Linked DNA regions of Homo sapiens. The protein of the gene in region 2 interacts with the protein of the main gene of each other region in a biochemical or structural test. Each region holds a gene or a part of one and is shown on either strand. Other genes may lie near its edges. The genes, in order: DHCR24, SLAMF7, SH2D1B and SH2D1A.

Region 1 (6,807 bases), about 110 Mb from region 2:
CGAGGATAAGGAAACTCAAAAGCAAAATAACTTGTCCAAAGTCACACAATTGGTAAATGGCAGAGCTGAGATTCATAGCCAGGACTGTTTGACTTCAGGACAGGAAAGATAGATGGAGTTGTGGTAACAGTTCACAGGGTAATAGCTAACACGTATGGAGGCTTATCACATGCCAAGGCCTGTTTAAACATTTGTATATGTTAACTCATGCATCACTTTGAGGGGAAGAGGAGGAGCAGGGAAGGACCACCAAGCCAATGGAAGGAAGAGGTTTTACAAAACCTCTAAGGTAAGTGACCAGAGCACAAAACACAGAACAAATGGCCCATGGATGACAAGCCCATCAGAAATGCAGGAGGAAGTGTTTCTTTTCTGCTGAGATAGACAAGTGCAGGGGGGGTGGATATTTGTCATTTTGACCTGTGACCATCCATTTCCTCTTCATCCACTTCTAACAATCCCCATCTTCCTTTGGTCCAAGTGAGACTGATTCTACTCCCCTACCCCAGGAGGTGGGTACATGACTGAGGACTGATTCTATACTTCTGGCCAGAGACAGATTAATGACATCTCATTAAGTCAAGCCAATGAGACCAGTTCCAGGACAGCCACTCTCTCTTTACTGGGGTCGCTAAGCCGGTTGGATATGAGCCAGAAACTGTTGGGGCCTCTGCAGGGAGAGAGGCTCCAGAGAATGAAGTCAACCTAGAAAAGCAGGGCCAACAGATGGCAGAGGGATGGACAGATGGAGATGGGGGACAGAGGATCCTGGATCCAGCCATGCCTGATCCAGTTGTACTCCCAGACTTTTCAGGACCTGAGCCAATAAAATCCCTTTTTGCTCAAGTCAGTTTGAATTGAGCTTCTTTCACTTGCAACCAAAAGTCTGGTCAAATACTGGTCAGGTCTCCTGGAGAAGGCTGCACTGGAGCTGGCTAGGCAAACAGCTCAACACGGGGAAGGACTTTTCTTTGATCAGAGGCCAGGGCAGGTATTAAGGAAGAGATTCCTGTGATTTGGGGGAAAAGGGATGATAGGTAGGATTCCACGACCAACCAGGTCTCGTCCCTGCCTGAATCTGCAGCCACGGAGTTTGACACAAGCCCAGAGATGGGAGGGAGTGATTAGGGGTGCTGCACTGAAGCTGGAGGCCAAACAGAGAGCCCAGAAAAAAGGGCAACTAGGTCAGACAGCTATTACAAGCCAGGTGTGAGGCAACTGAACCAGACCTATAGGGGGGAAGGGAAAGCCTGGGAAAGAAGAAATGTCAGAGTTCAGGCTCTGAAATCGAGCTAACCTAGGTTCTAGCCCCATTTACTGACTAGTCTTCCTGAGCACATGACTCACACTCTGAAACTCAATTTTCCCTGTTTGTAAGATAGGCACAAGATCTACCAGGGTTGCTGTGAGGATGGCAATGGCACATGGCAGGTCTGGGGTAGAGGCTAGTCCAGCTGGGCCCCTGTTTTCCTGCTCACAGTGAATCTTGTGGCTTAGCCAAGATTAATAGGCACTCGCTAGGCTGTTTTGAGCCAGGCCCTATGGGCCACAGGCGAGTCACATAACAGTCCCTGCATTCTAGGAGCTCACAGTCTGACAGGGGAGACAAGCAGGTAAATGGAGAATTTGAACTCGAGAAAAGAGCTAGGAAACAGGGTGCAGGTGGGGAGGGAGGACACGCAGAGGCTCTGGAGCCATGACTGTGACCAGCAAAATCCAGAGCTACAGGGCAAAGCACTTCCAGACACTGCGTTCTCCCACCAGGCCCCAGGTCTTATGCCTCATGGGAACGTCTCTCCGCATCCATCTTCATGCTCTTGCCTGAAGCACCCAGCGCGGAGCAAGCAGAATATGGAGGCTGCTACACCTACGGAAGGGTGGCAGCAGGAAACAGAAGCTCTCTGCAACCTGATGCCAACAAGAGAGGAACATAAAGAGAAGCAGAGGGAGTCAAGAAACTGCCCAAGTCCCTGGATGCAGAGGAGGCTCCACTGTGAGCCACAGCAGGTCACAGGCTCCGTGGGTGCCTGAGGAACTGAGAGATGGACCGACTGCCTTTGTCAAGGAGTGAGCCCTCCGTCAGCAGAGGCTGTGAGGTTCTTCCCTCCCGCTTCTGGGCTGGGTTCTACCTTCTTGCTTTAGTCTTCTATCCTAAACCCAATCAAAAGCGTCTTGCTGTACAAAATAAAGTCCAAACTCGGCCTTGGCATCAAGGCCCCTCTCCAGCCTAGCACCAAACGGACTTTTCCGACGTTCTCCCGCCCCTGCCCTGCACTTGTCGGCTTCCCAGCATTTGCTCACACCAGTCCCTCCACCCACACACCTTCCCCCAATCATTTCCCATACTTCCCAATCTCTAGACCCAGCTCCACCTCCCGGAAGCCTTTCCTTCTCTGAAATGCTTGGGCCGGGTGAGAGTTACCTGAGTGCTTCGCACCTCCCCCTCTTCCCCTTCTTCATCTCCCTCCAGGTACCCGCATATGCCCTGCACACAGTGGGCACTTTGCCTGTTCTGTTCCCCCGCCCCCATCACATTTTTGTTTCGTTCCAACCCCTCTCCAACGCCAGCTCCCCACCCCCCCAGGAAGTCCTGGCCGCCCCCGCACCGCAGCTCCCGTCGCCACCTCGCGTCCCGCTATCCCCGCGCACGCCGCCTCCGGCCCTGAGTCCCGGCCGCACCCGGCGCCGCTCACCTGCTTCTGGATGTCCCGCACGCGCTGCTCGTGCAGGCGCGGAGCGCTGCTGAGCTTGAACACCACCCAGGCGCGCACGTAGTAGTAGATATCGAAGATAAGCGAGAGCGGCAGGAGGAAGAGGCACACGAACACCCAGCGCTGGTGGATGAGCACGAACTCCAGCCCCTTCAGGCGCACCCACAGCAGGAAGAGCAGCGCGCACACGGCCAGCGACACGGCGGGCTCCATGGTGCGGCGCCGCGCGGTAAGCGCTGCGGGTTCGCGCCTCCTGTCACTGCCGCCAGCTCCGCGCCTGGCCCGCTCTGCGCCTGTAGCCCACAGCCCGGGGAGCCCGGGATCGCCCGCCGCCTCGCGATTGGCTCGGGTCGCCGAGGTTCGGTGGGCCGAGACCCGGGCGGCGACCAATGGCGAGCCGCGCCGGGGATCGGACCAGGAACCCGCAGCTTTCATTGGCTGCGGGAGTCGGACCGCTCCACCCTTTTCTCCCCGCCGCCGCGCGAGGCGGGGGTGCCAGGGACTGGGTGCCGGTGGGGTCCGCTGCGAATACTGGGGGTGGGCAGTTGGGACTCAGGGCCCCAGGCCCTCGGGGCTGCGGGGCCGCCTCTTCCAAACGCGCCTTAAGCGGTTTTGCAGTGGCTTTCCGCCGGAGGGCTGGGAGGCGCCCCGGCCCTGAGTCAGTCACCCTTTGGCCGGACAGGCGGTTCCCGGGCGCGGAGGATGGAAACCTGGCGGTAACCTCTGCAGGTCGTGCCACTCGGTGTGCGCAAGGTCTCCAGAGGCATCTTTTCATTTTTAGGGGGCACTTTCCACGAATTCATTTGAGCTACACAGCAGTCCTGGGCAGTGGGGAGTGGTGAGCTCCATTGTGTACACTTGGAAGCAGCCCAGAAAGGTGAAGACCTGTTCGTGAACTCCAGAGGCCATTGGAAGCATGGAAGGCTATGGCTGGCACTCTTCCTCTTTTTCCAGTTCACTGAGGCAGATGGGAGGCCCGGAGGAGAAAGAATGAAGGAAGGCATTTCAGCCCGAGTAAACTCCCCAGGCCCGCTCTGTGCCAGGCAGTGTTGCAAGCCTCGGGTAGGGTGGTGAGCAAAGCAGATGGCCCTGCCCTCACTCAGCAACCAGTGTAGGGGAGCTGCCACGGTTACCAGCAAAAGCTGAAATCCAGCGCCATTTGCATTTCATATGGAATTTTAGGAAGTTTTCGAGATGTTTTAGTTTAGAAGCTAAACATGACATACCAGGTTCTTCTCTGTCTGGCCTTGCATACCTATCCAGTTCCCTCTCCATTCATCTCTGCCCTGACATGCACTCAGGAGGCTCCCTGGGCCTCAGCATTCCTCATTTGCGCGCCTCTGGTCAAGCTAGTACCTCTGAATGCCCTTTCCCATCCCCTTCTCAGAGTTCACCTCACACATTCCGAAGCCAGCTCAGGGCCACCTCTGAAACATTTAGAGCACTCCCCTGCCCATCCAGATGCTCATTAAATAGTGTGCATCTCTGTCACCGTTCTTTCATGTTATTTTATAATTGTCTCTTTATGTGTCTCTCACCCCCACAGACTGAGCCTTAGGGCAAACAATGTCTTGTTCACTTTTGTCCTTCCAGCTTCTAGCACGGTGCTTTGTGCACAGTAAACACTCCAGCGGCTGTTGACCAATGAATGAATGAAGATTGTAGGCTCAAATATTCAAGTTATCAAAGTGCAAAGAATGAGAGGTTGTTTGCACTGGACTTCAAAAATAAATAGCCTGGACCTGTACTGTCTTACACAACAGCTATGAGCTACTGGTATGTGGCTAGTCCAAACTGAAATGCCCTTTAAGAGTAAAACACACACTGGATTTCAAAGACTTAGTACAAAGAAAAAATGCAAAATAGCTCATTAGTAATTTTTATGTTAATGACATGTTGAAATAACATTTTGATATATTAAGTAAAATATAGTATTAGAATTAATTTCACCTGTTTTATTTACTTTTTTAAGGTGGCTACTAGAAAATTTAAAATTACAGATTTGTCTTGTATTACATCTCTAGAAGCTCCAACCAACAGGGGGACAGTGAAGTATGAAGAGGAAAGCCAATGTGAAAAATGCCTCTCCCCGATTCTGTCTGACTCTGTTAAAGAGGGCTTTGCTTTAGAAGCTTAACCATTCTGATTATTTTGGGGGTGTGAGGTAATCTGGAAAGTAAAATTTACCTAAAAATTAACTGAAGAGTGTTGTGTAGGAGAAACAGTGGAAATTACTGGTTAATCAGAATAGTTTTATACTTGGGAAGAGAAGGATGGAGTCCCAGAAAGTAGATACAACTGATCTTTAGGAAACAACTCCCAAAAAAGGAAAGGAATAAAAAAGTACTCAGGCTGGGTGTGGTGGTTCATGCCTGTAATCTCAGCACTTTGAGAGGCCAAGAGGGGCAGATTGCTTGAGCCCAAGAATTCAAGACAAGCCTGGGCAACATAGCAAGACCCTGTCTCTAAAAAAAAAAAAAAAAGAATAAAAAAAAAAGCTGGGCATTGTGGCATGCACTTGTAGTCTCAACTACTCAGGAGGTTGAGGTGGGAGGACCGATCACTTGAGCCTGGGAGGTCAAGGCTGCAGTGAGCCATGATCACGCCACTGCATACTAGTGTTAGCAACAGGCTGTCTCAACAACAAAAAAGTGAAAAAGTACTCAGAACAATTGTTTATTCAGTGTGCACGTTTCTCATTCTCTCTTCCTGCCTACCCTCCTCATATTTCTGATTCTTCTTTTCTGTCTCCCCAAACTCTAATCCTTTGGGTTGCTTTTATCCAGGTAAGGAAAGCAGTCACTTGAGTTGAGCCAATCAATTAATTAATTTTTTAAGTTAACATATAGTAAAACTGCTTAATCTTTGTACAGCTGATGAATTTTAGCATGATGAGGATTCCTGTAACTACTACCACAATGAGGATACAGAATAGTTCCACCACCCCAAAAAACTCCCTCTGCTGCCCCTTTGTAGTCATACTCTCCCCTACCTCCTAGCCCCTGGCAATCATTGCCCTGTTCTGTCACTATAGTTTTGTTTTTTTTCCAGAAGGTCATATGAATGGAATCATATGATATATAACCTTGGACCTACTAATTTTTGCTGGAGTCAAAGCAGCTTCCTTTGTCAGGGAATCTATTCATATTATACATTACTTACAGAGTTGATGGAGCATGCAGACAGTCAGAATGCTTAGGAATAGGATGTTCTGGGCAAGAACTTTTCAGGTTAACTAGGTAAACCCCTTTTATAGTTTGACCACGTAGCAATCTTTCTACAATGTGAGCCTCTATTTCTTTCTTAATAAATAGAGTGTAAAGAACAGTTTTTTTTTTCTTCAGTAAAGGAGCATGATAAATACCAGAGTCCTAACAAATTGCATTTTCTTATATTTGTACAGTGCAGCTACTGAGATCATTTGATCTTTGCAACCAGTCTCAGGAGTGGCAATGCAGGGAATTAATATGTATTTTTTTTTAAATAAATGGGGACATTTAGACTCAGGTTAAGTGACTTACCTGATCAATGTCTTATTCTGGTGAATAGAGAATTCTAATGCAGTTGGTCTGCAAACTACACTTCACACAATAATCAAGGGAGCAGATTCAAATGATGGAAAGATCCAGAAGTTGGGAGCCATTCATGTGGTTCCGTTCCATAGATATGAAGTAGAAGTTTTAGAACAGGGTTTGTTGAAGTGTGGTTTGTAGACCAACTACATCAGAATGCTTGCTAAAATGCAGAGTCCTAGACTCTACCATATCCCACTGAAGCTAAATCTCCAGAAGTGGGGCCAGAAATCTACTTTTTAAGAAGTCAGCTACGTTATTCTTATGCATGCTAAAATTTAGGAGATTGGACTGAGTATTAATCCTGGAACTTCTTTAAGAATATTACCTTTGTTTGGCCAGGTGCGGTGGCTCACGCCTGTAATCCCAGCACTTTGGGAGGCTGAGGCGGGAAGATCACAAGGTCAGGAGATCAAGACCATCCTGGCTAATGTGGTGAAACCCCATCTCTACTAAAAATACAAAAAATTAGCTGGGTGTGGTGGCGGGTGCCTGTAGTCCCAGCTACTCAGGAGGCTGAGACA
Region 2 (6,117 bases):
CCAAGTAGCTGGGACCACAGGCACATGCTAAAAATTTGTTATTTTTAATTTTATTTTTGATTCAGAAGCTACATGTGTAGGTTACACAGGTATATTTCATGATGCTGAGTATAACCCATAATTCTTTTTTTGAGATGGAGTCTTGCTCTGTCGCCTAGGCTGGAGTGCAGTGGCGCGATCTTGGCTCACTGCAACCTCCCCGTCCTGGGTTCAAGCAATTCTCCTCCCTCTGCCTCCCAAGAAGCTGGGATTACAGGGGCTCACCACCATGCCCGGCTAATATTTTTTGTATTTTTAGTAGAGACGGGGTTTCATCATGTTGGCCAGGCTGTTCTTGAACTCCTGACCTCAAGTAATCCACCTGCCTCGGCCTCCCAAAGTGCTGGGATTACAGGCGTGAGCCACTGCTCCCGGCCTAACCCATAATTCTTAATGTCTATGTATGAACAGACCTTCACCTGTGGTGGTCAGTTTCTTTGGCAGTTTCCAGAATTTCACTATTGCAAATAGCAAAATAATGCATCTTTTTGTATGTGAATCTCACAATATCTGTTTTATTAAGATAGTAAAGAAGACTTTTTTACTACAATAGGGTTTTGCAGTAGGGAGAGAGATCTGGCTCAATTCCTTCACAATGCCTTTCTGAGAGAAGATAATCCTCAATCCCATTCTTGCCCAACAAGCATTTGTTATTAAGTTTTTCAACACTTTCATCACTTGGTAGGGAGGTCTCCATTCAAGATATGTGTCAGGGAACATATCAAAAGCAGCCATTCCCCTTTCCCCTTCCCCATGTTTTTCACTTAAGTATAAGAGATGGTGAGCTCTGTATTGGTAGGGATGTTCATCTTACGTGCCAGACTGACCTAGCACAGGTGTTTGTTTGTTTGTTTGTATTGGAGTTTTGCTCTCGTTGCCTAGGCCGGAGTGCAGTGGTGCCATCTCAGCTCACTGCAACCTCCACCTCCCAGGTTCAAGCGATTCTCATGCCTTGGCCTCTCGAGTAGCTGGGATTACAGGTGCACACCACCACGCTCAGCAAATTTTTGTATCTTTAGTAGAGATGGGGTTTCACCATGTTGGCCAGGCTGGTCTTGAACTCCTGACCTCAGATGACCCACCCACCTTGGCCTCCCAAAGTGCTGGGATTACAGGTGTGAGCCACCATGCCGGGCCGCATAGGTTCTTAATAAATATCTATTGAATGAATTAACCATCTTTAAAGGTTTACAAGTACCCACTGCCCCCCGTGCCCCACCAGTCTCACTGCCTGACTCCAAGTCTCCTACACTAGATTTACAATGTGACTTCAGACTCGGTCTCTTTATTGGGATGGGTTCTGGCACAGCCTTAAAACCTAGACTTTTCTTTTGCAGCACAAGTGCATAAATGAAGCCTGGCTGGAGGTCCTTGTCCTTGGGCCATGCACACTTCTGTGTCTCCATTATAGTATCTGCCAAACATGGTCAGCTACCCTGATTCTTCATCTTTGTGAACTTTGACCTTCAAGTCCTGTGGATCCACACCTGGCCCTCTGGGAATCTGTGGTCAGGCCTGCTACAACTGCTCATGAAAGTAGTTCATTCATTTGGAGCCAATTTCATGAGGGCAGACAGCATGTCTGACCAATTAGTGTAAGCTCAGCATAGTGCTGGGCACATAGTTTATAGAGCCAATTAATACATCCATTTTTGTCAGGTGCATCTGCTTCTGCTGGACTTGTCTGTCTGTTTTGGTCTTCTTGCCCTCCTGGTAGCAAGACTCTTGGTATAATCCTGACATCCAAGCCCTGGGATGGAATGAAACTCCAGACACTGACCTGGAGCCATCATTAATACAACAGGCTGTCATTAATATGTGTGACCTTGCATTTACATTTTTATAGGAATACTTCTAAGCACTTTTTTTATGGTTTGCTGACATTCACAATCCCATTTTTGGGATGAAGTGATTAAACCTTCTGGGTTTGAGGAGATTTCTCAGCAGTGGATGGAATTATGAACTCTTAAATCTAAAGAAGCATCAGAGATAATTTATCCTGGAAAAAAGTCAACGTTCTTCATTCTTCCTTGATGTTTCTAGTCAAATCAGTGAATTCTTCTGATTGTTTTCTTTGGGCCGAGAATTGTTTTTTTTTTGAGCAGAGACTTAGGGGAGTGCACTGCTGTCTAGATAACATTCTCATAGGCAAATAGCCTTGGTGTGTCTGGCATCGTGAGCAGTGAGTGGGGATTTTCCATCTGAAGACAGACAAAAAGAAAGTAGAGTGAGGGAGGTGAGCAGGGCTCTGGATCGTCCATGGAGACCCTGACATCCAGGAAACTTTATTTCCAAGGTTACCCAACCCAAATCGGCTGGCATGCTGGCTCCCACTGTTTGATTTTAATCACCCCTAGCTTAGAGAAACTATTCTGTAAGTTTAACGCATATTTATCTTGCTGAATGCTTAATGAACTGAACTTTCCTTGTTCAGTTGTAATAATTCACTAAACCAACCTTTTCTATTACTAAGCAAACTGCTTTAATGATTCTTATCTTTTTGGATCTGTTTGGGAGAGGAAGAAAAAGGAGACAGAAAGATACCATTACTGCTGCCAACCGTACTCTGTGAAGGAATAAGCCTTAAAGCTACTGCATTAGTAGTTTAACTGAGGGGAGGGTGCAAAGCAGATGTAACATAGCTGGACCATGGGAGAAAAGTAGAGATCTCTCCCTCCTGCAGTTTCCTGGTGTCTCAGGAGAAAGCTGGACTCTCCTCTCAGCTATTCCTCTCTTCATTCCATGCACAATCTAAGCCATGGTCTTTTTCCTTGTCTGCAACTTCAGTCAGAAGGCTTTTGATTTTCTTTATTATTCCGATCTAGAACCTCTGTCCTACTCTATTTGTTCCAGATTACCCAATTCGATTCCTAAAACACAATTCTCTTCCATCCCCCATGTTCTTGTATAACCCTAAGCAAAGGGAATGGGGAACTACTAGGGTACTTTTTAATTCTAGAGAGTATGAGATACCTGGGTCCAAGAAATTTTGACCTAAACATGAAGCAGGAAAAGAAATGGAACCATTAAGATGAAGTTAAGCTCTAAAGCTTCTTACCTTTTTCGGTATTTCCACAGTGGAGTAAACCGTATTTGCTGGATCTTCCTTTAGGATTGTTCTCTTTTAAAAACAAACAACAAACAAAAGAAATCATCACCCACCTCCTGAATCACATAGACAAGGCCAGAGAGACATTCAGAATCCAGAGAGGGGAAAGCAGAGATGGGAGGAGATGTGAGAGGAAAAGGAGGGTTCTGGAACAGGGAAGGGAGGTAGGAAGTTCTCTTGTTGGTGACTGCTATTATAATAAATTTTGATAACTTTTTTCAGGAAGCCATTACATTATTTTTAAACTGTACTGTGTTAAAATGAATTTCAAAAATATTATATATATATGTGTGTGTATATATATATATATATATATATATATATATATATATATAGAGAGAGAGAGAGAGAGAGAGAGAGAGAGAGAGAGAGAGAGAGAGATCTCTAGAGAAGTCTTCTGATACCATGATTCAAACATCCTGTCAAAGTCACACTCTTCTACCCACTGCCTTATGCAAAAGGAATCTGGCCTTTTGTGTGGCCGTTATGAACTGTGGAGGGGAGCAGGTGATTTCACAGACCACAGCATGAGCATTGTGAGTCAGAACCAGGTGCTCCAGAGACCACCAGCTTCTTCTGCACAGAAGAGAATCCATGAAGACTTGGAGGAGGCACAGGTGCATTGAGTTTTAAGTCTATATATCCTCACTCCCCTCTTCATTCCCATGTTGTCCAAACCCATGGAAAAACCTCACAAGGAGAGCCTCAGAGACAGGATCAGTTCTCAGGAAAGATGAGAAGGGACTCACATTAGTGTGAGGGATTGTGTCGTACTCTGTGTTCTCTCCAGAATGGGGGCATATGTTAGGAGTTTCCCGACAAATGTCCACTCTCTTCTTCTCTTCAATGTACTCTAAAAGCAAGTTGGGAGAGAATCAAAGCCACCTCTCCAACCACTCACCACTTCCACTGGCCCACCATTTCTCCTGGATGACCCACTTAGGGTGACCAACCAGCCGAGTTTCCTTGTAATGGAAGGGTTTTCAGGATAGAGGACTTTCAGTGTTAAAACTGGGAAAATCTAAACAAATCAGGATGAATTGGCCACCCCCAACATTTCACTTCCTGATCTCTCCATCAAGGTGGTCAAAGTGGGAAGTAGAGAAAGTCAAAGACACTTTCAGAGGGGCTTCCAGGAGGGAAGGGAGATTTCAAAGTCTGCAAGTCATACCCAACTGATGTTAGGTCCCTCCCCATCACCCACATGGACAGTGGGAGCCCAGAAGACCAATCAGCAGGGTTTAGGAACACAGGATGGGGTGCAACTGGAGAGAGACAGGGAAAGGCTTCCCCAGGAGCCATGTGTCTAGTGGGCAGTAAAGCGAGGTCTTGGGTTGATCCTGTGGAAAGGGTGTGGGTGGTTTGTGGGCTCTGACAGGGATAGGAAGGATTGACTAGAGGATGCTGGTCTGTGGGGACCTCAGAGTTGGAGGCCATCACCTCCCAGGTCAGGGGAGCAGAGTCAGCAGTGTGGGGCCTGTATCAACAGAAGAGCCACATCAGGATGTCCCTCTGGGAGAAGGAGAGAAGTGAGCCCTGGAAAGGGAACTGGGAGAACCGTGTCCTTGGGAAAGACCTCCAGCACTTTCTCTACTCCAGAACTAAGGAGCACAGGCTGACTGTATGCTTCTTGAGGGCAGAGACTGTGGCTTCTTCATCTCTGCATCTTCAACACCTCATGCCAAGTCTGGCACACAGCTCTATATGTGCTTGTTGAATCAGTGAAGGAGAAAAACATGAATGTGGGTGAGGACAAAAATAGTACACGCTCTACCTTCTTGTCTCTCTCTCTTCAGAAACCAAAGAAATAGCCCCAGTACAAAGAGACTGAGCAGGAGGGGCACCAACAGGAGACACAGGAGGACCATGGAGGAATCTGGGTCATCAGCAGCACCTTCAGAGAATGGGTGGAGGCACAGGGAAGGGAGAAAAGTCAGCTCAGGAAAACGACCCAGGTCTTGGAGCACCTGCCACCTTCCTCCCAGCCTGGTGACCACCCAGCGGCCTCCAGTTTCCATACAGTGTCTGTTCCCATGGGGGCTAGGAGCTGAAGAAGGTGTAGGACCTGGGCAGAGTCTCCTGTGGAGAGGGGAGAGGCAGTCACCTTCACAGAGCTTCCTGGCAAGGATGGGGCTTGAGAAGTTTCTGCTGACAGGGTTCCTGGCAACGCAGATGAAGGTCATATCACTTTCTCCCCATCTCCAGGAGATGGGGAGGATGGACCCATTATGGGACTCATTGGCTGCTTGCCCCAGGGCCTTCCAGGTATAAATCACATCCTCTTCCCCATGTTCCATGCAGCATGTCAGATTGGTCACACAGGTGCCATTCTTATTGCTCTGCAGACCCATGGTGACTTTAGGCTTTGACAGGTGCTCTGTGAGAGGAAGGAAAACCAGAGGTGGAAACTCTGCCTATAGCTCTCCATTCTCTGAATTATCCTTGGATACCTTGGACCTGAATCTCCCTGGGAGCTCCAGACTGGAGAGAAAGCAGTAATTCAGAGCAGAATCCTCATTCGTATCTGGAAAAGAGAACTACCTAGGTCTGCTTTACCATAGCTATATAATAATAATAACAATAACAACAATAGAAATAATAGAAATAATAATGCAATAAGAATATAACTGTCATTTACTAAGCATAGCCACATGGCAAGCACTGTGATAACGCATGTTAGATGTCCGCTAATATTATCTGTTCTAGAGGTTCCCTAGTCTCTGTCCTCAGGCTTCCCTTTACTCTCTATGAGAGTTCACTTTACTCTCTAGGAGAAAATTGTGTTGGAGTAGCCCTTCTGGCCCCCTTCTCTACTCTGTGCTCACTCCCCTGCCTCAGAGAATGAGTAGTTGGTTCATTGGTGAGATGGTAAGAGTCTGACATTCATCATTTACCTTTCTCTACTCATGGGTTTGAGACGTTAAAGGTTGCAGTTAAAATGTGTTTTGCCCTTTTTCTTCCTCCCCTGA
Region 3 (7,042 bases), 1.7 Mb from region 2:
CATCTTGCATCATTGTTGAGTCTTCTAATTCAACGGAGGTTTTGCTTGGAGTCCAGGCTGGTGTGTTTGGCCAGTGGAGGAGCCACAGTGGAATAACAGTGAGGGTTATTCAAAAGTAGAACCCAGCTGGGTGCGGTGGCTCACGCCTGTAATCCCAGCAGTCTGGGAGGCTGAGGCCGGCGGATCACAAGGTCAGGAGATCGAGACCATCCTGTCTAACACGGCGAAAACCCTTCTCTACTGAAAATACAAAAATTAGCTGGGGGTGGTGGCGCGCGCCTGTAGTCCCAGCTACTTGGGGGGGCGGGGGCTGAGGCAGGAGAATCGCTTGAACCCGGGAGGCGGAGGTTGCAGTGAGCCGAGATCGCACCACTGCACTCCAGCCTGGACGACAGAGCGAGACTCCGTCTAAAAAAAACAAAACAACAACAAAAAAAGTAGAACCCAAGCCTAGAACCTTCCTATTTCTCTTCAGGGAAAAACCAGGTTAACTCGATCTGACTCTCATCTCTGCATTGTGCTTTCCTTTTTAGAATGCTTTCGCACAGTCATGGCTCAGGTAAAAGACATGTTCCCAGGTTCTTCTCCCCCAACTTTTGTGTTGTTGTTGTTGTCGTCCTTTTTGTTCTTACCTGTATCCTGTAATACCCGTGTTTCTCTCTGAAGATTCGGTATGTGTAGACAATATTTTTAAACCTGTGGAAAAAATGACTGTGTGAATCAAAATGTTCTATGCAAATCCAGGTAACATCTATCGTTATGTTTCATATGCAATACCTTTGTTAATCTACAATCCTAAAAAAACTCTTTTTTTTTTTCTGGGACGGAATATCACTCTGTCGCCCAGGCTGGAGTGCAGTGGTGCGATCTCAGCTCACTGCAACCTCCGCCTCCCGGGTTCAAGCGATTCTCCTGCCTCAGCCTCCTGCGTAGCTGGGATTACAGGCACCCACCATCATGCCCGTTAGAATGGCTATTATCAAAAAAGACAAAGGATATAGAGAAAGGAAAACCCTTGTACAATGCTGATGGGAATGTAAATTAGTATAGCCATATGGAAAACAGTATGGAGGTTCCTCAAAAAATTAAAAATAGAATTACTGGCCGGGTGCCGTGGCTCACGCCTGTAATCCCAACACTTTGGGAGGCTGAGGAGGGCAGATCACGAGGTCAGGAGTTTCAGACCAGCCTGGCCAACATAGTGAAACCACGTCTCTACTAAAAATACAAAAATTAGCTGGGTGTGGTGGCGTATGCCTGTAATCCCAGCTACTCGAGAGGCTGAGGCACGAGAATCGCTTGAACCCAGGAGGCGGAGGTTGCAGTGAGCCAAGATCATGCCACTGCACTCCAGCCTGGGCGACAGAGCGAGACTCTGTCTGAAAAAAAAAAAAAAAAAAAAAAAATATATATATATATATATATATATATATATATGTAATTACTATATAACCTCACTACTGTGTATATATCCAATGGAAATGAATCTAGTATGTTGAAGAAATATCTGCACTCCCACTTTTATTGCAATATTAGTCACAATAGCCAAGACATGGAATCAACCTAACTTGATTAATAGATGAATGAAGAAAGTTACACACACACACACACACACACACACACACACACACACACAATGGAATATTATTCAGCCATAGAAAAATAAAATCCTGTTACTTGCAACAACATGGATAAATCTGGAGGATGTTATCCTAACTGAAATAAGCCAGGCACAGAAAGAAAAATACCACATGGTCTCACTCATACGTGGCATCTAAAAAAAGTTGATATCATAAAACTAAAGAGTAGAATGAGAGTTCTCAGGCCTTGTCAGTGAGAGGGGGAGGATTAGGGAGATATTGGTCAAAGGATACAAAATTTCAGTTAAACAAGAGATCTATTGTACAACATGATGACTATAGTTAATAACCATATATTACGTTCTTAGGCAGGGCACAGTGGCTCAGGCCTATAATCCTAGCACTTTGGGAGGCCAAGGTGGGTGGATCACCTAAGGTCAGGAATTCAAGACCAGCCTGGCCAACATGGTGAAACCCTGTCTCTACTAAAAATACAAAAATTTGCTGGGTGTGGTGGCAGGCACCTGTAATCCCAAGTACTCAGGCGGCTGAGACAGGAGAATAGCTTGAACACAGGAGGTGGAGGCTGCAGTGAGCCGAGATGGTGCCACTGCACTCCAGCCTGGGTGACAGAGTGAGACTCCATCTCAAAAAAAATAAAATAAAATAATAACCATATATTATATTTTTGAAAAATGCTGAGAGGATATTTTAAGTTTTCTCACTACAAAAATGATAACTTGATGAGGTAATGCATATGTTAATTAGCTAGATTTAGTCATTCCACAACGTATATATATTTTAAAACATCACATTGTACAAAATAAGTACATATAATTTTATCTATCAAATAAAATAAAATGAATTAGATTGTATACTTTAAATATGTACAGCTTATTTTACTTGAATTAGACTTAAGTTTTTAAAAATAAAAAAAGTAAAATCTGCTGTTGAACCTCAATAAAAAAAGAAAAGAAAATACATGGATGGCAAATAAGCACTCGTAAAGATACCCAGTATCATTAGTCATTAGTGAAACGCAGATTCAACTCACAATGAGATACCACTACACACTTATTAATACAGTTAAAATGTAAAAGACTGACCGTTCCACATGTTGGTAAGGATGTAGAGCAATCAGAACTCATGTAATGCCCATGGGAATAGTGAGATCGCATGATCACTTTGGGAAACAGTTTGGCAGTTTCTTAAAAAAGATAAGCCTACATAGAACACACAACTTAGCTGTTCCAATCCTGATTATTTACCCAGGAGAAATGAAAGCATACACCCACACAAAGACTTAGTCACAAATATTCATAGCAACTTTAGCTGTAATAGCTATAAATGAGTAAGCAATTTGGGATGCATCCCTACAATGGAGCACTATTCAGCAATGCAAAAAAATGAACTATTGCTGCATGCAACCACATAGATGGATCTCAAAATAATTATTCCGAATAAAAGAAGTCAGATAAAAATGACTACATACTCTATGATTTGATTTACATTAAATTCTGGAAAAATACACATTAATCTATAGTGCCAGAAAGCAGTTTGTGGTGGCCCAGAGTCTGGGCATAGGTGGGAGGTATGTTGATGAGAAATTACAAAGGGGTGCAAGTGAAGTTTTGGAGGTGATAAATATGTTCATTATCTTGGCTGTGTTCGTTTCATAAGTGTACATACATATGTCAAAATCCATCAAATTGTACACTTTTTATTTTATGTCAGTGATACCTCAATAAAGCAGTAAGACATATTCATGGCATAAAAAGGTAGATGAATATAATTTATCTTTCTAATATATAAACTAAATTTTAATTCCTTATACATATGTGCTTTTGCTGTTTTCATGATTGGTTTTTGGCCTCAGATAGAAAAAGTGTTTCCTATTTTTGCAGTTATGTTCTCAATAAATATGTGGTGTCTTGACTCTCTGTGTGAGACTGATACCCAGTGGAGCCTACCTTTTTGTTTATTCTATGGAAATCGTTGTCGTCATTTATGAGAAATACACTGGACTTATAAAAAACATTTAAAAATCTTAGGCATTAATTTCTCAGTTGAGGTTCAAAAAGGCTGGAATACAGGACCTCTAAGTTTTCCCATATCTTTGAATTGTTTTACTCTATCTATTTAGCTTTCAAAGTGATCGTTCCATGAGGTGCTGTGCACGGATCTCTGAGTCCTTGCTCAACGCATGAACAGCCCACAGATTAGCACGGTCTCATGTTGTGGCCATTGTTGTGGGGAAACTTGTTTGTGTTCAAGTTTTTATTTTAACTAACCTTCAAAAGGTCAGCTGAAGGAAATGGAATCGACTGCACCCTATAATATCAACAATGTGTTCTGCATTTTTCCATGCCATGATGCAAGTGGGAAATCCAAGTCAACAAAGAAATATTTTAAGACTTTTGACCTCTGGCCTTATCACTGTTCCTGATCTCAGTGTATCTTGGTGCAACCTTTTGTGGTACTAATTTTTCAGTGTGCATGAAGATTTTTTTAAACATCTAGGATTTTATCCTAACTAGGGAGTAAGGCAAACTTTCACAGATGTAAGTACAAAAATGTTAATCATTCCAAATTACACTGAGTCCACTGGACTAAATTGCAAATGAAAATTGAAAATAACCTAATGTATGATATGTATACATTATGATATATCAAATCAATAAAATACTAAGCAGTCATAAGGGGATGACCTGCTTTCTTTGATGGGGAAAGAGACCTACAATTATGGAGAAAACAGGTTGCAAGCCATCATGTATAATGAACCATTTATGTACATATATTGGTTTATAGATGCGCAGAGAAGTCTGGAGAGATGTATGCCAAAATATTAAAAATGGTGATTTCAGAGTGGTGAGACTGATATAGTTTGTTTTGTTTTTTATACCTTTCTCTATATTTGATTTTCTAAAATGAATTTTCATTAGCTTGATAAACCACCACAACAAAATGGATCATTTCTTTTCTTTCTGTACTCTACAATCCTTGCAAAAGTCTCAGAATCTGAGACTCATAAATGACTCTCAAGGCAATAGATAGACATTGCCATTATTATTCTTAATGAGAGCATGCAGTAGGTTAGGGCTCAGGTCTTCCTCACCTGCAGCCTTCCTATGGCTTTGCAAAGTCCTCCTTTTCTTCACACTTGCAGATGAATCCTTTGCACCTCCTAATATCTACTCCATTTAATTTTACTGATGATAAAGGCAGACAGTTTAGACACTCACAAAGTCACACTACACAGACAACCTTTTACACACTGGAGTTTTCTAGACACTCTATTACATTGTAAGATCAGAAAACATTTCCTGTCCACAGTTACCACATAGCTTTCTGGTTAGTGCCATATGCTGCTAGGTCAGCTCTCTCTGTGACCTCCTTCTTTTATTTCTAACCTTCCTCACAGTATTTTCATCACTAAATATTTAGCTCTGTGAAAGTCCTGAAGTATCGGGGGAACCAGCCCCCAATATTTCAACGTAGGTTCTTTTCTATTCTCCCTAAGTGTCGGCCAGTCTAAGAAATAAAGGGAAAGAGTACAAAACAGAGAAATTTTAAAGCTGGGTGTCCAGGGGAGACCCATTTTAATGCAGCAGAGAAGAAGGGGACACTGCATATCAGAGTCCACTCCCAAGCCCTCAGGTCCCCTGCTTGGGCATTTTATAACACAGATCCAAGGTGATTACCTGAAACATATTTCAGTGAAGCTGGGGACATTGGTAAGAGAGGGAATGTAATAACATATTAGCAATTTGGCCCTAGGCAAGCTATTAAATAAGAAGCTACAGTTTATTTTCTCACAAAATAGTGATCATGTCGCCTACCGCAAAGGGATTGCAAATGACAAATAAGATAATGCATGTACCATGCTTAGCAAAATGTTTGGCTCATAGATAATACCTACATGGTAACTTTTTCTGTGTCAGTGAAGACAAGCAGGCTAACACTTGTATCATAATAGTAATTCTTGCTTTGCTTGCAAAGGGTTGTATCTTGAAGCATGAATTGGTTGATGTGACCTCTTCAGAGAAACCTTTCCTGTACCCAATGGAAAGCAGCAGCTGTGTCTCTCCCTGTCATATGACTCTGTTTCATTTTCATCATATTTTCTCCTCTTACTGAAATTAACTTCATGAGGGCAGAAACATTGCCAGTAGTATTTATCACTGTATTACCAATGCTTAGGACCACGCATGGAACATAATAAGTGCTCAGTATATGCTTGTTGAATGAATGAAGGTTCCACTTATTCTCCTAAAGTCTCAGCTCCAATATCTGGTTCTCCCCTTTTTGCTGTCAGCTCTACAGTGCCCTAATGATAGTCCAATCATCATAATTATCACATGCATCACTGTGTCTGTTTACTTCTTTATTTTCCCCACTAGGCTCTGAGTTGTGTTGAAGGCATCAACCGAGTGTCTAGCACACTGTCTGACATATGAGAGAATTCAAATATTTGTTGAACAACTAGAATTTAATAGTCCATACTTATCTGTATGATAATACATTTTTACAAGGCCCTATGAGGAGATAGCTTCAGGGGTCACTTGACCTAAGCCTTAAGCCTGAGGGTGAATGAAATGTTGTTTGCCTTTCAGTGACATGTGTAGGGAGGTGGGTGAGACCTGATCATGTGCAGGGGCTTAACAAATATTTATTTTTGCCTCTCCACTTGGTTTATTTTCATTTTTTAGCTTCTCTTTTTTTCTCTTCTTTTTTTTTTTTTTTTTGAGATCAAGTCTCGCTCTGTAACCCGGCTGGAGTGCAGTGGTGCGATCTTGGCTCACTGCAACCTCCGCCTCCTGGGTTCAAGCAATTCTCCTGCCTCAGCCTCCTGAGTAGCTGGGACTACAGGCGCATGCCACCACACCCAGCTAATTAGTTTTGTATTTTTAGTAGAGACAGAGTTTCACCATGTTGGCCAGGATGGTCTCAATCTCTTGACCTAGTGATCTGCCCGCCTCGGCCTCCCAGAGTGCTGGGAATACAGGTGTGAGCCACCACGCCTGGCCCATTTTTTAGCATCTCTTAGTGACCTTTGCTTTAGATGAATATGCAAGATGGGCTGATGCACCACAGAACAGTTGAGAATAAATATCAATTTTCAAAGAGAATCCCAATATAGGCTGGGTGCAGTGGCTCATGCCTGTAATCCCAGCACTTTGGGAGGCTGAGGTGGGTGGATCACTGGAGCCCAGGAGCTCGAAATCAGCCTGGGCAACATAGCGAGACCCCATGTCTACAAAAAATTTAAACATTAACCAGGCATGGTAGTGCGCACCTGTAGTCCCAGATACTCAGGGGGCCTGAGACAGGAGAATCTCTTGAACCCAGAAGGTTGAGGTTGCAGTGAGCCATGATCGCACCACTGCACTCCAGCCTAGGAGCTGGAGTGAGACCCTGTCTAAAAAAAAAAAAAAGAAAGAAAGGAAGGAAGAGAATCCCAT
Region 4 (7,042 bases), on a different chromosome or scaffold from region 2:
GGACAGGAAAGAACAAGATGAGACAGACAAGAGCAGTTAAAATGTTATGGGCTTATAGAATTTTTGATGTTTTTACAGAGATTTATTAAAAGTTATTAGAATAATAGATGAAAATTATAGCACATAAATTGTCACCTCTCATTTGACTTGCTGGCTACATCTACTTTCTCACTGCATTTTTCTTACATAACTTCTAATTGATTATATGGTTATGAACAGGTTGACTCATAACTCTGAGCTTCCAAACCCTGTCAAAAATTAAGAGGAAATCATACCTGTAGTACCTTGTGTACTTCTAGCTGAGGACTTCTTCTCAACTGGATACTGCAGAGGTATTACAATGCCTTGATCTGGCTTCTGAAATGCTGAAATGAGATTTTTTATTTTCCGGAAATATCTTTTATGTACCCCAGGTGCTGTCTGGAAAATAAAAGGCCAAGCAAATTATTTACCTATCTCATAATGATACAAAAAGACCTACAAAATGTGCTAGGGATGCTAAGAGAAGTAACATTTGTGTAACTTGTTGAAATATTTGAAAACATAAGGAAGAAGGAAAAACAACATTCCAGAAGAGCTTACTTTGGTTGGCTGAATTTCCCTGCAAGAGGAGCTAATGAGCTGTCATTTCAGTTCTCCCAAAGGTGGTATTAGTTTGTACAAGCTCTTGCTCATTGCCCTGCCCTTCCTGCCTGCTCCCCATCAGACATCTCAAACCTCTAAGGGTATACAGGCCATTACCCACAATGAATTCACCAACAGAGGGGATGCAGTTAAACAGGAAAAAACAAAAACAAAAACAAAAAAACAGATCCTACAGGTCATTAATAAAAAGCCTGAGGAACAACAACAAAAGAAAAACCAACAACCCATCCTCCCTGCCATCATCCCACAATATAAAATGCTACACAGGAAATTAAAAATTGGCTGTTATGATGCACACAGTGCACGGCTAGTTCAGTCCTCATACTCTTTCACCTCACAATATTTCCTGCGCCATTCTTCACATTAAATTTTTTCCTCCTTGGGAAACTTCCCTATACTCCCAAAATTGTTCTCTCCATCAGCACGTCACTGTAACAAGGTTTTCTCTATGACATGAAAATGAAAGACTATATAAGGTCACCTTTATTTATTTATTTGTGTGTTTTTAAAGAGACAGTTATTTGCAGGTGACTATTAAAATGTGTTCCTTTCCTGACATCAGTTGTCTTGCAAAGACACTGCCTGAAATCAACAACAATTTCCTGCAAAAGCTTATGAGCCAAGCTTCAGGCATCAGCTCAAACCTGTCATTTTACGTAAAATAAAATAGTATTGCTATGAGCAATTGAACAATGACTAGTTTTTTTTTTAAGTTGTTTTTCAGCTATTCCATCTGGTAGATTTTTGAGGTGGGAGCTGTTTGTTTTTTTAGCATTTAATGAGAAAACATGAAGGCGAGCATGAAGACTTCTGTCAGCTAGATAGTGGTATGCTGAAGATAGCATACTACACTATCCATAGTAACTCTCAGTCATTTCCTTATGTTGGGGTAATTTTTCATTGAAAACATGACAAAAATTCTTTTTAGCTCTATATTAGTGTTCCCCCATATGTTCACAGTAGATGTAGAACACTCTCTCACCCAGCTCCACCCCACTCTCTCACCTACCCTCCACCTTCCTAAAGCTCGATTGAGAACTCATCCAAAATAACATGGCCATTCTTGCAGAAGTCCAAACAGTTCGTTGGTTCCAAGATAGAGTCTCCAAATTGCAAATGCAGGTCATAGGCACAAATTGCCTCCTTATACTTTCCTCAGTGCACTTTTTCATTTTCAAAGCACATTCCTATCTCTTGCCTTCACTATTTCCTCACAAAATGGCAGTTATTGGCTGATTCAGTTATTCCCATTTGACAGATAAGAAAATATGAATGCAAAGAAATTAATCAGCTTGCCCAAAGTCACACAGACAACCAGAGGCAGAACTGGCTCAGAATCCCAGGACCCAGTCTCTTGCCTTTCAGATTAGAACTGGGCCAAACAGGATCTAGCGAAGCTAGGGTCATCAAACAGAAGAAAAACTATACACACCTAAAGTGTGGAAAGATTTCAAACCACACATCTTTTTAGCTTCTTGTGGCTTGTAAAGTCATTTATCAACAGAAGCATAGCCGGGCACAGTGGCTCACACCTGTAATCCCAGCATTTTGGGAGGCTGAGACCGGCGGACCACCTGAAGTCAGGAGTTCAAGACCAGCCTGGGCAACATGGTGAAAGCCTGGCTTTACTAAAAATATGAAAATTAGCCAGGTGTGGTGGCAATCCCGGCTACTTGGGAAGCTGAGGCACAGGACTCACTTGAACCTGGGAGGCAGAGGTTACAGTGAGCCGAGATCGGGCCATTCCACCACTCCAGCCTGAGCGACAGAGTGAGACTCTGTCTCAAAACAAAACAAAACAGAGAAGCAACATTTTTATGGGTACTGATATGTAGCTAACACTTGATTATCCATGCTAACAGAAATGAATAATAGCACTGGAAGTATGGAAGCTATTTGAATTGGGGATCTGATGTTTCATAAGCAAATGACTGGCCTATTTTACAGTGTTTTACTTAGATTAATAAGGACAATTATTTAACATCTGCTGATCTCCTGATCATATACCCAGTAAAGCCTGAAGACACTGATGTCAACAGGGTGATGTCAGTACATTTTTAATAATGTATTGCCAACAAATCACATATTAATAAATGAAAGTAGATTGTGGAATTATCTAAATTAACAATGTAACAAACTTTTAGTCTGAGTCATATAAGATAATACACTAGGCAAAGATTTAACCTAAAAGTCTCTCTAAAACTAGAAAAACACATGATATCTGTCTTTCATAATTCAGTGGGGCCAGGGTTTGATTTCATTACACTCTTTAAAACAAATCTCACTTACCTAGATTTCTAGCATAATATATGCACAGATGGTGGCATGCTACTGCCTTGATTTTTCCTGCAGCATGGCAAACTAAAACATTGTTCCAAAAATCAGTATTAATATCTATCATTTACCCAGTTTCGAAAATACATTTATCACAAGAATTGTACCACTGACAACTCTCATCCTGTCACTGAACTCAGCTATTCTTCAAATTTGCAAATCTCCCATACTGTCACCTCTTAGTTATCCATGGAAACATGTATTAGATCACAGCTGGTCTTCAATATGCTCTAGAGAAATTTTTTCCAGTCAGGTGGTATGAGCTCTGAGAATATACACTAGTTTAATTTTCACCTTAGAAAAGCACTGCTAAGAAGGTAAATTTAGTAGATAGAAAAAAATGCAATATGCATTTCAAAAATTAAAGAATTTTTTAAACTATTTTCTATTTGCGGATGTCATGCCAATCTTCTGCTCTCTTGGTGCAGAAAATTACAATATTATTACATAAACAACGTCAGATCAGACAACAGGATGAGGGGGCATTTGTGTTCAATAAGCCCTCTCTTCTTTAACATGATCACAAGCATGTAACAATCTCATATGATGTTATACTCAAAATGCAGGAAAACAAGTTGAAAAACAAAGTTGTTAAACCCTAAGCATTTAAGATCCTTTCCTTACATAATATTCTTCAGCAGCTGAAGGGTATTTCTCTGGGGAGAAGAGCTATTTCTGGCGAAATAATATACAAACGTGTGTGTGTGTGTGTGTGTGTGTGTGTGTGTGTGTGTGTGTGTTTGTCAGTATATTTTACACATAACTTTCTTCATAATAAAGTTTAATTTCTTATTCAATCATCTCTGCAGTGATACAGAGAATTTTTTAAATAAACAGGTATAAATAGTTTCAATTAGAAATGGTATAACTTTATCTTTAGTTAGTATTATAGTTTTAATGATCCTTACATAATACAGCAAAAGTGTGTTTGAAAACTTGGCCTAATTCATCTCAGTGGTTCAAAACATTTGTGGTCTGTAATTTATACTTTCCAACTTACTGATAAATCAGTAAACGTGAGAGCTATTTTAACTTCTTGAAGTCTAGACTTCAGAAAATTTTAAATGCACAGATTGAGTTATTAATAGGAGTTGTGGCAATTTTCAGGAGTTCACTTTTTTGAGGGCTCACTGTGTGCCAGGCCTTGTGGCAAACAGCTTCTTTATGTGTGTTATCTTATTTACTTTTCAAATTGAGCCTTGTGCATAAGGGAGGATTCTTAGGCTCCGTTTACAAATGAAGAAACTGGCTCACAGAAAAGTCAAGTAACCTGCCCAAGATCATAGACCTATCAGAGAGGAGGGGAGACCAGACCTGGAACCCAGATTCACCTGTTGACAAAGCCTAGTTTCTTCCACTCATAACTGTTTAATTTCAAGTTATAACTTCCCAAGTATATTGTAGTCTCTTAGAAAATAAGCATCATGTTTTTTAATCTCCCACGATACCAATACTCATATTGGTATCATTTGGTAAATAATTGTTCATTTAATTATTTTACCTACTTTTGATATGCTAAGATTTCACATAGTCACTAAAAGTTTGACATAATTCTTCAACTTTTTTATCTTTCTCCCAAAGTCATACAACTCTGCAAAATGATGGCTAAACAGGACTGGGACCAAAATTCTCTAAAGCTTTCTTAATGATCCATGAACAATTTTGGATTGGAGCTTTAGAGATTTAAACCTTATGAATACTTAATAATGTATAATTTGCTCTTTTATAAAACCAGCCTAAATTTCAAATACCTCCTTGACACCCCCAGAAGCAAAAATAAATACAACTATACCTCAGCACTCCAAGAACCTGTTTCTGTCTGGGACACTCGGTATGTATAAATGTAACCGTGATACCTGTGAAAGAATAAACTTCCATTACTGAAAGATTCCAAAAGAACAATGGATACTTTAAATTTGAGCTTAATATTACATATAAATGTCACATATACTAGGACACACGTATATGGTGTCATTGCATTCATAGGAAGTAAAGCATAGTGAATCTAACTTGTCTCCATATTGTATCTGCCCAACCACAGTTTCCAGTGAGATTTCTTTATCTTTTCATTTTTTGAAATATGGAAATTCATGCTCCTAAAGATTTGTCAAGTTGAGAGACCATTTGGACAGAAAGAAACTACAACAGGGACCTGTTGTAATTGATAAAACCATGAATTATTAGATAGTTTTAACAAACAATAGACTTATTTTTAAGTACATATCGAAACTTAAGGTGAAAACATTTCACTGGGATAATACACTATCAGGCCCACATAAATAATTATTAATATTAATAATATTTGTTATAAATATAATGGCAATAGTATAAGGATATAATACTATAAATTGAATATAACTATATTTTTATAAAATTACTATTATAATGTATAGCAATATAATATTGCCACAGTCATGCATCACTTACCAAGGGGGATACATTATGAGAAGTGCATCATTAGGTGATTTCGTTGTTGTGCAAACATCATAGACTGTACTTACACAAACCTATATGGTATACCACCTAGGCTATGTGGTATAGCCTATTACTCCAGGCTACAAACCTGTACAGCATGTTACTGTACAGAATACTGTATGCAATTGTAACATAATGGTATTTGTGTATCTAAACCTATCTAAACATAGAAAAGGCACAGTAAAATATAGTATAAAAGATAAAGAATGCTATACCTGTTGAGAGTACTTACCATGAATGGAGCTTGCAGGACTGGAAATTGCTCTGGGTGAGTCAATGAGTGAGTGGTGAGTGAATGTGAAGGCCTAGGACATTACACTACTAGAATGTTATGAACACTGTAAACTTAGGCTACACTAAATTTATTTTAAAATATTTATATTTCCCAGATCACGAGGTCAGGAGATCGAGACCATCCTGGTTAACACAACGAAACCCCATCTCTACTAAAAATACAAAAACTTAGCCAGGCATGGTGGCACGCACCTGTAGTCCCAGCTACTTGGGAGGCTGAGGCACTGAGGCAGGAGAATCGCTTGAACTCAGGAGGCGGAGGTTGCAGTGAGACGAGATCACGCCACTGCACTCCAGCCTGGGTGACGGAGCGAGATTGTCTCAAAAAAAAAAAACTGTATCGCTTCAATAATAAATTAATCTTAGCTTCAACTCTTTTACTTTATAAACTTGTAAATTTTTTTAAACTTTTTGACTCTTTTATAACACTTCGCTTAAAACACAAACACATTGTACAGCTGTACAAAACTGTTTTTCTTTATATCCTTATTCCATAAGCTTTTCTCTGTTTCAAAATTTTTATTTTATGTATTCTTTGCTATTTAAACTTTTTTGTTAAAAACTAAAACACAAATACGCACATTAGCCTAGGCCTACAGAGAGGGTCAGGATCATCAGTATCACTGTCTTCCACCTCCACATCTTATCCCACTGCAGGATCTTCAGGTGCAGTCACACACACGGAGCTGTCATCTCCTATGATATTCATATTCCAGAATGCCTTCTGGAATACCTCCTGAGGGACCTGCCCGAGGCTGTTTTACAGCTAACTTTTTTTTATATAAGTAGGAGTAGATTTTAAAATAATGATAAAATGTATAGTACAGTAAATACATAAACCAGTAACACAGTAATTTGTTATCATTATCAAGTATTGTGTACTGTATGTAATTGTCTGTGCTATACATTTTTTTCTTTTTCTTTTTCTTTCTTTTTTTTTTTTTTTTTTTTTTTTTTGAGATAGAGTCTCGCTCTGTTGCCCAGGCTGGAGTGCAGTGGTGCAATCTCAGCTCACTGCAACCTCCGCCTCCCGGGTTCAAGCAATTCTGTTTCAGCCTCCCGAGTAGCTGAGGCTACAGGTGCATGCCACCATGGCTGGCTAATTTTTGTATTTTTAGTAGAGACAGAATTTCACCATATTGGTCAGGCTGGTCTTGAACTCCTGACCTCAGGTGATCCACCCACCTCAGCCTCCCACAGTGCTGGGATTATAGGTGCGAGCCATCACACCTGGCCTGTGCTATACTATTATACAGCTGACAGCACAGTCGGTTTGTTTATACCAGTGTCATCA

The links.
Region 1: the proteins of SLAMF7 (region 2) and DHCR24 form a complex in vitro, tested with the Homo sapiens proteins (one study listed by BioGRID).
Region 3: the proteins of SLAMF7 (region 2) and SH2D1B interact in a biophysical measurement, tested with the Homo sapiens proteins (one study listed by IntAct).
Region 4: the proteins of SLAMF7 (region 2) and SH2D1A interact in a biophysical measurement, tested with the Homo sapiens proteins (one study listed by IntAct).

The regions. Positions count from the first base shown.
Region 1 is NC_000001.11:54,884,196-54,891,002, forward strand, and holds the start of DHCR24 (delta(24)-sterol reductase precursor), read right to left. Parts: upstream 3,001-6,807; 5' UTR 2,925-3,000; coding exon 2,694-2,924; intron 1-2,693. UniProt on the Homo sapiens protein: Catalyzes the reduction of the delta-24 double bond of sterol intermediates during cholesterol biosynthesis.
Region 2 is NC_000001.11:160,749,229-160,755,345, reverse strand, and holds the end of SLAMF7 (SLAM family member 7 isoform a precursor), read right to left. Parts: intron 5,526-6,117; coding exon 5,253-5,525; coding exon of another isoform or gene 5,214-5,252; intron 5,043-5,213; coding exon 4,923-5,042; intron 4,002-4,922; coding exon 3,898-4,001; intron 3,161-3,897; coding exon 3,098-3,160; intron 2,241-3,097; coding exon 2,169-2,240; 3' UTR 525-2,168; downstream 1-524. UniProt on the Homo sapiens protein: Self-ligand receptor of the signaling lymphocytic activation molecule (SLAM) family.
Region 3 is NC_000001.11:162,402,107-162,409,148, forward strand, and holds part of SH2D1B (SH2 domain-containing protein 1B), read right to left. Parts: intron 697-7,042; coding exon 633-696; intron 1-632. UniProt on the Homo sapiens protein: Cytoplasmic adapter regulating receptors of the signaling lymphocytic activation molecule (SLAM) family such as CD84, SLAMF1, LY9 and CD244. In SLAM signaling seems to cooperate with SH2D1A/SAP.
Region 4 is NC_000023.11:124,363,554-124,370,595, reverse strand, and holds part of SH2D1A (SH2 domain-containing protein 1A), read right to left. Parts: intron 4,836-7,042; coding exon 4,772-4,835; intron 421-4,771; coding exon 276-420; intron 1-275.